Linked DNA regions of Homo sapiens. The protein of the gene in region 1 interacts with the protein of each later gene in a pairwise test. Each region holds a gene or a part of one and is shown in the gene's direction. Other genes may lie near its edges.

Evidence for each region.
Region 2: the proteins of POP4 (region 1) and RPP14 interact in binary tests that used the Homo sapiens proteins (3 or more experiments, as listed by UniProt).

Annotation. Positions count from the first base shown.
Region 1 is NC_000019.10:29,612,523-29,616,339, forward strand, and holds part of POP4 (ribonuclease P protein subunit p29), read left to right. Parts: intron 1-1,348; coding exon 1,349-1,450; intron 1,451-2,721; coding exon 2,722-2,858; 3' UTR 2,859-3,817. UniProt on the Homo sapiens protein: Component of ribonuclease P, a ribonucleoprotein complex that generates mature tRNA molecules by cleaving their 5'-ends.
Region 2 is NC_000003.12:58,312,519-58,316,335, forward strand, and holds part of RPP14 (ribonuclease P protein subunit p14), read left to right. Parts: intron 1-3,203; exon of another isoform or gene 3,204-3,301; intron 3,302-3,817. UniProt on the Homo sapiens protein: Component of ribonuclease P, a ribonucleoprotein complex that generates mature tRNA molecules by cleaving their 5'-ends.

The DNA of each region.
Region 1 (3,817 bases):
TCAGCTACACCTGACAGCCCCCAAGGTGACATCTCCAGCGTAGGCCTGTCCCCTGAACTCCAGGCTCAGGCATCCAGCTGCCCACTTGACATAGCCACCTGGATGTTCAGGGGGCATCTCAGACTTTACATAGCCAAAGCTGCCACCGATTCTCCTCACAGCAACCCCTCCTGGTCTTTTCCATCTCAGTTAATTACTCAGTTATTTACACTGGTTGTTCAGACCAAAAACCTAAACAGTGTCTATGTTTCTTCTTTCCTAATCTCCTCGAATCCTTCGGAACATCCTACTACTTAAATTCAGCCACTGTCATTCCCCAGATTACCTCAGACACAGCTCCTCACCGCACCAGGCAGCCAGAGTGCCGGTTACGTAGAAATCAGAGCACGTTCCTTCCCTGCTTCAAGTCTTCTGGCAGCGTCCCATCGTATGGGAGTAAACCTGCCTCCTTGCTGTGGTCTAAGGCCTCCCCGCTCCCTGGGGCAGCAGGCCTCCCACACTGCCTTCCTCCTGCCCTGCCTCAGGGCTTCGCCTCTGCTCCTTACCTCTACCCGGGAGTTCTCCTGTGTGTGCACAGTCCAGCTTCTCATTGTTCAGCCCTGCTCCAATGCCACTCCCCTCAGGGTCTACCATTGCAAACCATGACCCTCCACACATTGCCCTGTCCCTACTCTTCATAGCACTCGTTGCTGTCAGAAAGTAGAATGGTGTGGTTCACCGTGCATCACCCTGCCTTGCTAGAACCCGGGCTCCGTGAGAGTAGGATCCAGGACCGCCTCTTTCCGTGCTGTGTCCCTGGCATCTCCTGAGGATGGTGCAGGCATTCCACAGCTGCTTGGTGACTCTGTCCGCTACACTGAGGCTCGGGTCAGGACGAGGGAGGGGCTGCTGCTTGTGATGGTGGCTCATCTCGCAGTGCTGGCTGCTGGGCAGCTCTGCAGCCACACTCACGTTCCAGCCAGCATCCTGGGCAGTGCATGGTGGTGTTTGTGCAGATCCTGCAAGGGAGACCTGGCTGCATCAGAGCAGCCAGCCCGTGGGCCCTGATGGTGCTGGGCACATATGTGACCTTTAATTCCAGAATCCTGCCCAAGACCCCTGTGGCCACAGACCCTCCGAAGGACACCTCATAGGAACAGTCCAGAGGCTGCAAAGCCCCAGGGGAAGCCTGGATTCTTGTTGGTTACATCAGGGCCCAGCTGTTGAGCCCCCACCCCCTGGGTGCTCTGTTCTTTCATCTGCTAGCTCAGAGGGTGGGATCAGCACCCCCAACCCCTGAGGCCTGCTTCTCTGTGGTTCCCCCAGCACCACAGAGGCCTGAGCCTGGAACTGTCCTTTTTCTTTGCAGTGACAAAATCCAAATGCCCCTCTTATGTGGGTATTACAGGAATCCTTCTACAGGAAACAAAGCACATTTTCAAAATTATCACCAAAGAAGACCGCCTGAAAGGTATGTAGGTGTTTCTGAGGGCATTGCTTGCGGGCTGTGGCTCCCAGCTACTGCGTTAGCCTTTTCCTCAAGGCTCCAAGAGTTTGATTTGACCCCTCAAGTCAGCGCAGATTGCAGATACTTGCTGAACCTGCATTAAAGCCTGCAGAGACCATCCCCTGCACCCGTGGCTCCCCCAAGAGGTGTGTGTCAGTGCAGCCTGCAACCCCGGCCAGAAATGGCCAAGGGGAAGGAAGACCTGCTCGGCTGTGCCTCAGGGGACCTGGGTCTGTTTAGGCCCCAGGAGAGGGCCTCCACCTGCCCCAAAGGCTGCTGCTCCCAGAGGAATGTAGCCAAACAGGCAGCAGGGTAGAAACAGGAGTGGCGCCTGTCCCTGGAGTTCTGAGCTGTGTCCTTGGCGATAACACTTGGGTTCCATCCGTGGCCAGCATTGCTCTAGCAGATACTTTGGGTCAGCCAGGATTTCTACACCCCGCCTTACCCACAAATCCAGAGATATCAAACCATAGTTAGAAGGTTTTGTTCCTTTAATTTTTCTTTTTTTTTTTTTTGGAGACAGTCTCACTCTTCCACCCAGGCTGGAGTGCAGTGGCACAATCTCGACTCACTGCAGCCTCCACTCCCGGATTCAAGGGATTCTTCTGCCTCAGCCTCCCAAGTAGCTGGGATTACAGGCACGCGCCACCACGCCCGGCTAATTTTTGTATTTTTAGTAGAGGCAGGGTTTCACCATGTTGGACAGGCTGGTCTCAAACTCCTGAACTCAAGTAATTCACCTGCCTCAGCCTCCTAAAGTGCTGGGATTATAGGTGTGAGCCACCGCGCCCAGCCTTCTTCCTTTAATTTTTGAGCTTGGTTTTTCTTGTTGCTTCCCTTATTTTCCTACATATCCTTCTACCTCACATTGTAAACCTCGGAAAGTGGTGTAATAGTTTCTCCACAGAGCATAAGGCCAGGAGCCCATCTGAAAGTTAATGTGGGAAAACCAGTTTCTGGCAGGTGTTCTGGGACTTTCTGGTTCTGGGAATTTGGTGTATAGCCTTTGACCCTGAAGATTAGGTGCCAAGCTACATTTAGCATGTGACTAGATTGACCTGTGGCAGAATAACCACAGGCAACCCTAATGCCCCTCCCCTTGTGGGTTTCCCGTTTCCTATTAGCTTATTTTTTTCATTCAATGTGTTCTGAATAATATTCTACCTAAAAGTAAAATATTAATAAATATTTTTCCTCATCTTTTTTTCTCCTGCCTTTTTTTTTTTTTTTTTCAGTTATCCCCAAGCTAAACTGCGTGTTCACTGTGGAAACCGATGGCTTTATTTCCTACATTTACGGGAGCAAATTCCAGCTTCGGTCAAGTGAACGGTCTGCGAAGAAGTTCAAAGCGAAGGGAACGATTGACCTGTGAATTCTTTGCCGTCTAAGGCAGTTGTTTATGACAGCTGAAAACTGGACACTCCCTAAATGTCCACCTTTCAGTGAAGAGATAGTTAAGCCAATTCCATTTATAGACCACCTCCAGCCAGTGACGCTCCGAGTTGAGGATGTTGAACAACATGGGAAGGTCGCAGCGTACTAAGTGAAGAAGTCAGAGGACAGAGGAATTTCTCTTTCTAGGAGATTTTCATTTTGTGTGACTCCCATGGGGAGGAACAGACTGGCAGGAAGCACACCGGGGTTAACACTGGTTGACTTGAATAGGATTATTCGATTTTTAAAAATACTTTTCCATGTTTTCTGAGTGCTCTATGATAAATCAGTTGCATCTGTGATAATACAGTACATATGTGGACATAAACAGGGATCAAATAAAGGAGGTATTGCTGCAGTCCAGCCAGGTTGAAAGGGAAGGGGGGTCCCCAAAGGTCCATTGGATGGCAGGTGTCTACAGAGGCTCGCCTTTGGGTGGAACTCTGACCCACCTAAGGTTTACTTTGCTATTTCAGGAAGGTTGAAGAGGATTGAAGGGTGAGTTGCTAAGTGACTTAGGGTTTATTCACTTCAGGAATCATAGCTGGGGTGGACCCCAGGAGCAGAGTACTGCATGCAGCTGTGCCCATGCATGGTTGCCCCAGCGTAGTGAGATGGGACCTGCCGCAGCATGCCCACTCCTGAGCTGCCAGGCTGAGCCATGGAGGACTGAAAGGAGGTCGCCCGGCATCACCTCCCGAGGTGAGACCTGCTGCAAAAGCCAAGCCAGCAGCATTGACGCCCTTTGATATCTTCGCCATTTTTGCTGCTGAAAGACTTGGCTTTTCAGTCTGACCCTGGCCCTCTGTGACCATGTGTCTGTAAAGCCAGTGGGTCAGGCCCTTCCATGCAGGGCCAGAGGAAAAGCGGGCCCAGGGCTGCAGTGAGAGCGGGGCA
Region 2 (3,817 bases), on another chromosome or scaffold:
ATATGCCTTCTGTTTGACAAGGAACACGTTAGACAAATGATTGTTGTAGCACAGTGCTACTCAAAGTGTGGCCTAGACTGGCACCTGCAAACTCTTTTCCCATCTTGAAGAGATAAGGAATTTGCAGCAGAACCACTTTTAATGAGAAAGTCTCCTTATGGGCCAGGCGCAGTGGCTCACTCCTATAATCCCAGCTCTTCGGGAGGCTGAGATGAGCAGATCACTTACAGTCAGGAGTTTGAGACTAGCCTGGCCAACGTGGTGAAACGCTTTCTCTACTGAAAATACAAAAATTAGCTGGGCATGGTGGCGCACGCTTGTAGTCCCAGCTACTTGGAAGACTGAGGCAGGAGAATTGCTTGAACCTGGGAGGCAGAGGTTGCAGTGAGCAGAGATCACGCCACTGCATTCCAGCCTGGGCAACAGAGCAAGACTCTGTCTCAAAAAAAAAAAAAAAAAAAAGGGCTGGGCACGGTAGCTCACGCCTGTAATCCTAGCACTTTGGGAGGCCAAGGCAGGCAGATCCCAAGGTCAGCCGATCAAGACCATCCTGGCTAACACGGTGAAACCCTGTCTCTACTAAAAACACAAAAAGCCGGGCGCAGCGGCGGGCACCTGTAGTCCCAGCTACTCGGGAGGCTGAGGCAGGAGAATGGCATGAACCCGGGAGGTGGAGCTTGCAGTGAGCCGAGATCACGCCACTGCACTCCAGCCTGGGCGACAGAGCGAGACTCGGTCTCAAAAAAAAGGCTCCTCATGAAAAAAAGATGAACTGAACTAAACATGGTGATTAATGATACTATTGGTTTATATTCTGATTCAACTCATTATTTTGTCATAGACCAGCATTTTAAGCAACTTTGAGAACAGAAGTAGAGAAGTAGAGTTTCAGAAGTTGAAAGAAGACAGGATGCTCAGGAAATTATTTTGTGATTCATATAGTCTGTCAAATCAAAATATGCTAAGTACCTCATCAAAATTTAAAACTTTTACTCTGCAAAAGACTCTTAAGAGGATGAAAGGGCCAGGTGCAGTGGCTCACAGCTGTAATCCCACCACTTTTGAGAGGCCAAGCGGGTGGATCACTTGAGCCCAGGAGTTCCAGGCCAGCCTGGGTATCTGGTGAAACCCCATCTCTACAAAACAATTTGAAAAATTGAGCTGGGTGTGGTGGTGTGCACTGATAGTCCCAACTAGTCAGGAGGCTGAGGTGGGAGGATTGCTTGAGCCCAAGAGCTCAAGGTTGCAATGAGTGGTGATCACACCTCCATGGCTGGGGGTAGGGGTGGGAAAGGATGAAAAGATGAATTACACACTGGGGGAAAATATTTGTAAACCACGTATCCAACAAAGGACTATAGTGTCTAGAATATATAAATGACATTTGGCCTGGTGCAGTGGCTCATGCCCGTAATCCCAACACTTTGGGAAGCCAGGGCAGGAAGATTGCTTGAGGCCAGGAGTTTGAGGCTGGCTGTGGTAAACTATGATTGCACTACTGCACTGCAGCCTGGTCAACAGAACAAGACCATGTCTCAAAAATAATAACACATGGGGCGTGGTGGCTCATGCCTGTAATCCCAGCACTTTGGGAGGCCGAGGTGGGTTGATTGCCTGAGGTCAGGAGTTTGAGACCATCCTGGCCAACATGGCAAAACCCTGTCTCTGCTAAAGCTATAAAAACTAGCCGGGCGTGGTGGCACATGCCTGTAACCCCAGCTACTCGGGAGGTTAAGGCAGGAGAACCACTTGAACCTGGGAGGCGGAGGTTGCAGTGAGCTGAGATCACACCACTGCACTCCAGCCAGGGTGACAGAGAGAGACTCTGTCTCAAAAAAATAATAGTAATAATAATAAAAAAGAAGTATCAGAACTCAACCAAACAATTCAATTAGAAAATGGGCAAAAACATTAACAGACATTTTGCTAAAGAGAATGTGTGGTTGGCAAAGAAGCACATGGAAAGATGTTTAACATTAGCCATTAGGGAAATGCACATTAATGACACAATGAGATACCACTGTGTACCTAGCAGAATGACTGAAATAAAAAATGACAACACTAAGTGCTAGCAAGAATGCAAAGAAACTAGATCACTCATACACTACAGTGAGTATGTAAAATGGTGCAGCCACTCTGGAACATAGTTTGGCAGTATTTTTTTTTTTTTTTTTTTTTTTTTGTTGAGATGGAGTCTCGTTCTGTCACCGGGCTGGAGTGCAGTGGCACAATCTTGGCTCACTGCAACCTCCGCCTCCCAGGTTCAGGCGATTCTCCTGTCTCAGCCTCCCAAGTAGCTAGGACTACAGGCACACACCACCACACCCAGCTAATTTTTTTGTATTTTTAGTGGAGACGGGGTTTCACCATGTTGACCAGGATGGTCTCAATCTCTTGACCTTGTGATCCGCCTGCCTTGGCCTCCCAAAGTGCTGGGATTACAGGTGTGAGCCACCATGCCTGGCCAGCAGTATCTTTAACAAACTAAACGTGCATCTGCCATAGAACCCAGCATTAGCACTCCTGGGCATCTGTTCCAGAGGACTGAAAACTTAAGTTCACACAAAAGCCTGTACATGAATATTCATAGCAGCTTTATTTTTAATAACAATGAAACTGAAAACACCCCATATATCCTTCAATGGGTGAATAAACTGTGGTACATTCCTACTATGGAATATACTCGACAGTGAAAAGGAATGACCTATTTAGACACAATATGAATGAATCTCCAGAGAATTATGCTGAGCGAAAAAAAGCCAATCCCAAAACATGACATACTGGGTGTTTCCATTTATAGAAGACTCTTGAAATACTATATATAATCTGGAGAAAGGTTAGTGGTTGCTGGGGTGAGGAGTAGGGGAGGAGGGGTGGGTGTGGCTGTAAAGGGTAGAATAAGGGAGTCTTATGATGGTACAGTTCTTTATCATTGATTGTGGTGGTAGTTATATGAAGCTACCTATGTGGGAAAATTACATAGAGCCACACACAGGTATAAATAGGAGTAGACATACAATTGGTAAAATCTGAATAACCTCTGGTTTGTACCAATACCAGTTTTGTAGTTTTGCTACTGTACTGTAGTTACGCAAGACATTGACATTGTGGGAGGCTGGATGAAGAGTGCATGAACCTCCCTGTACATTTCTTTTTTATTTATTTATTTATTTTTGAAACAGAGTTTCGCTCTTCTTGCCCAGGCTGGAGTGCAATGGCACGATCTTGGCTCACCGCACCCTCCGCCTCCCAGGTTCAAGCGATTCTCCTGCCTCAGCCTCGCAAGTAGCTGGGATTACAGGCATGTGCCACCACACCCGGCTAATTTTGTATTTTTAGTAAAAATGGGGTTTCTCCGTGTTGATCAGGCTGGTCTCAAACTCCCAACCTCAGGTGATCCGCCCTCCTTGGCCTCCCAAAGTGCCGGGATTACAGGCGTGAGCCACTGTGCCCGGCCAATCCCTGTACATTTCTTTGTGATCTCTTGTGAGTCTATAATTTTTTTAAATACAAAATTTTAAAAAAAAATATCCCTGTGTGTACCTGTGTGTCAGGTAGAAAACCTCGTTCCTGGGGTTTATATAGCTGCAAACAAACAGACATGGCCTCTGCCACATGGACTAATGTCTTGGTTCTTGTAGTAGGAAAACATGTTGGACAATTAGTGACAAGAATAAAGGGAATTATGAAAGAGAAAGTATGGTGTCCTGTACAAGAAAGAACATAGCAAGCTGACTTTGTCTCATCTTGAAGATCAGTCAAGGAACAATTTAAATGAAGGCTCAAAGGATGAGAGACATCAGCCATATGAAGAGGT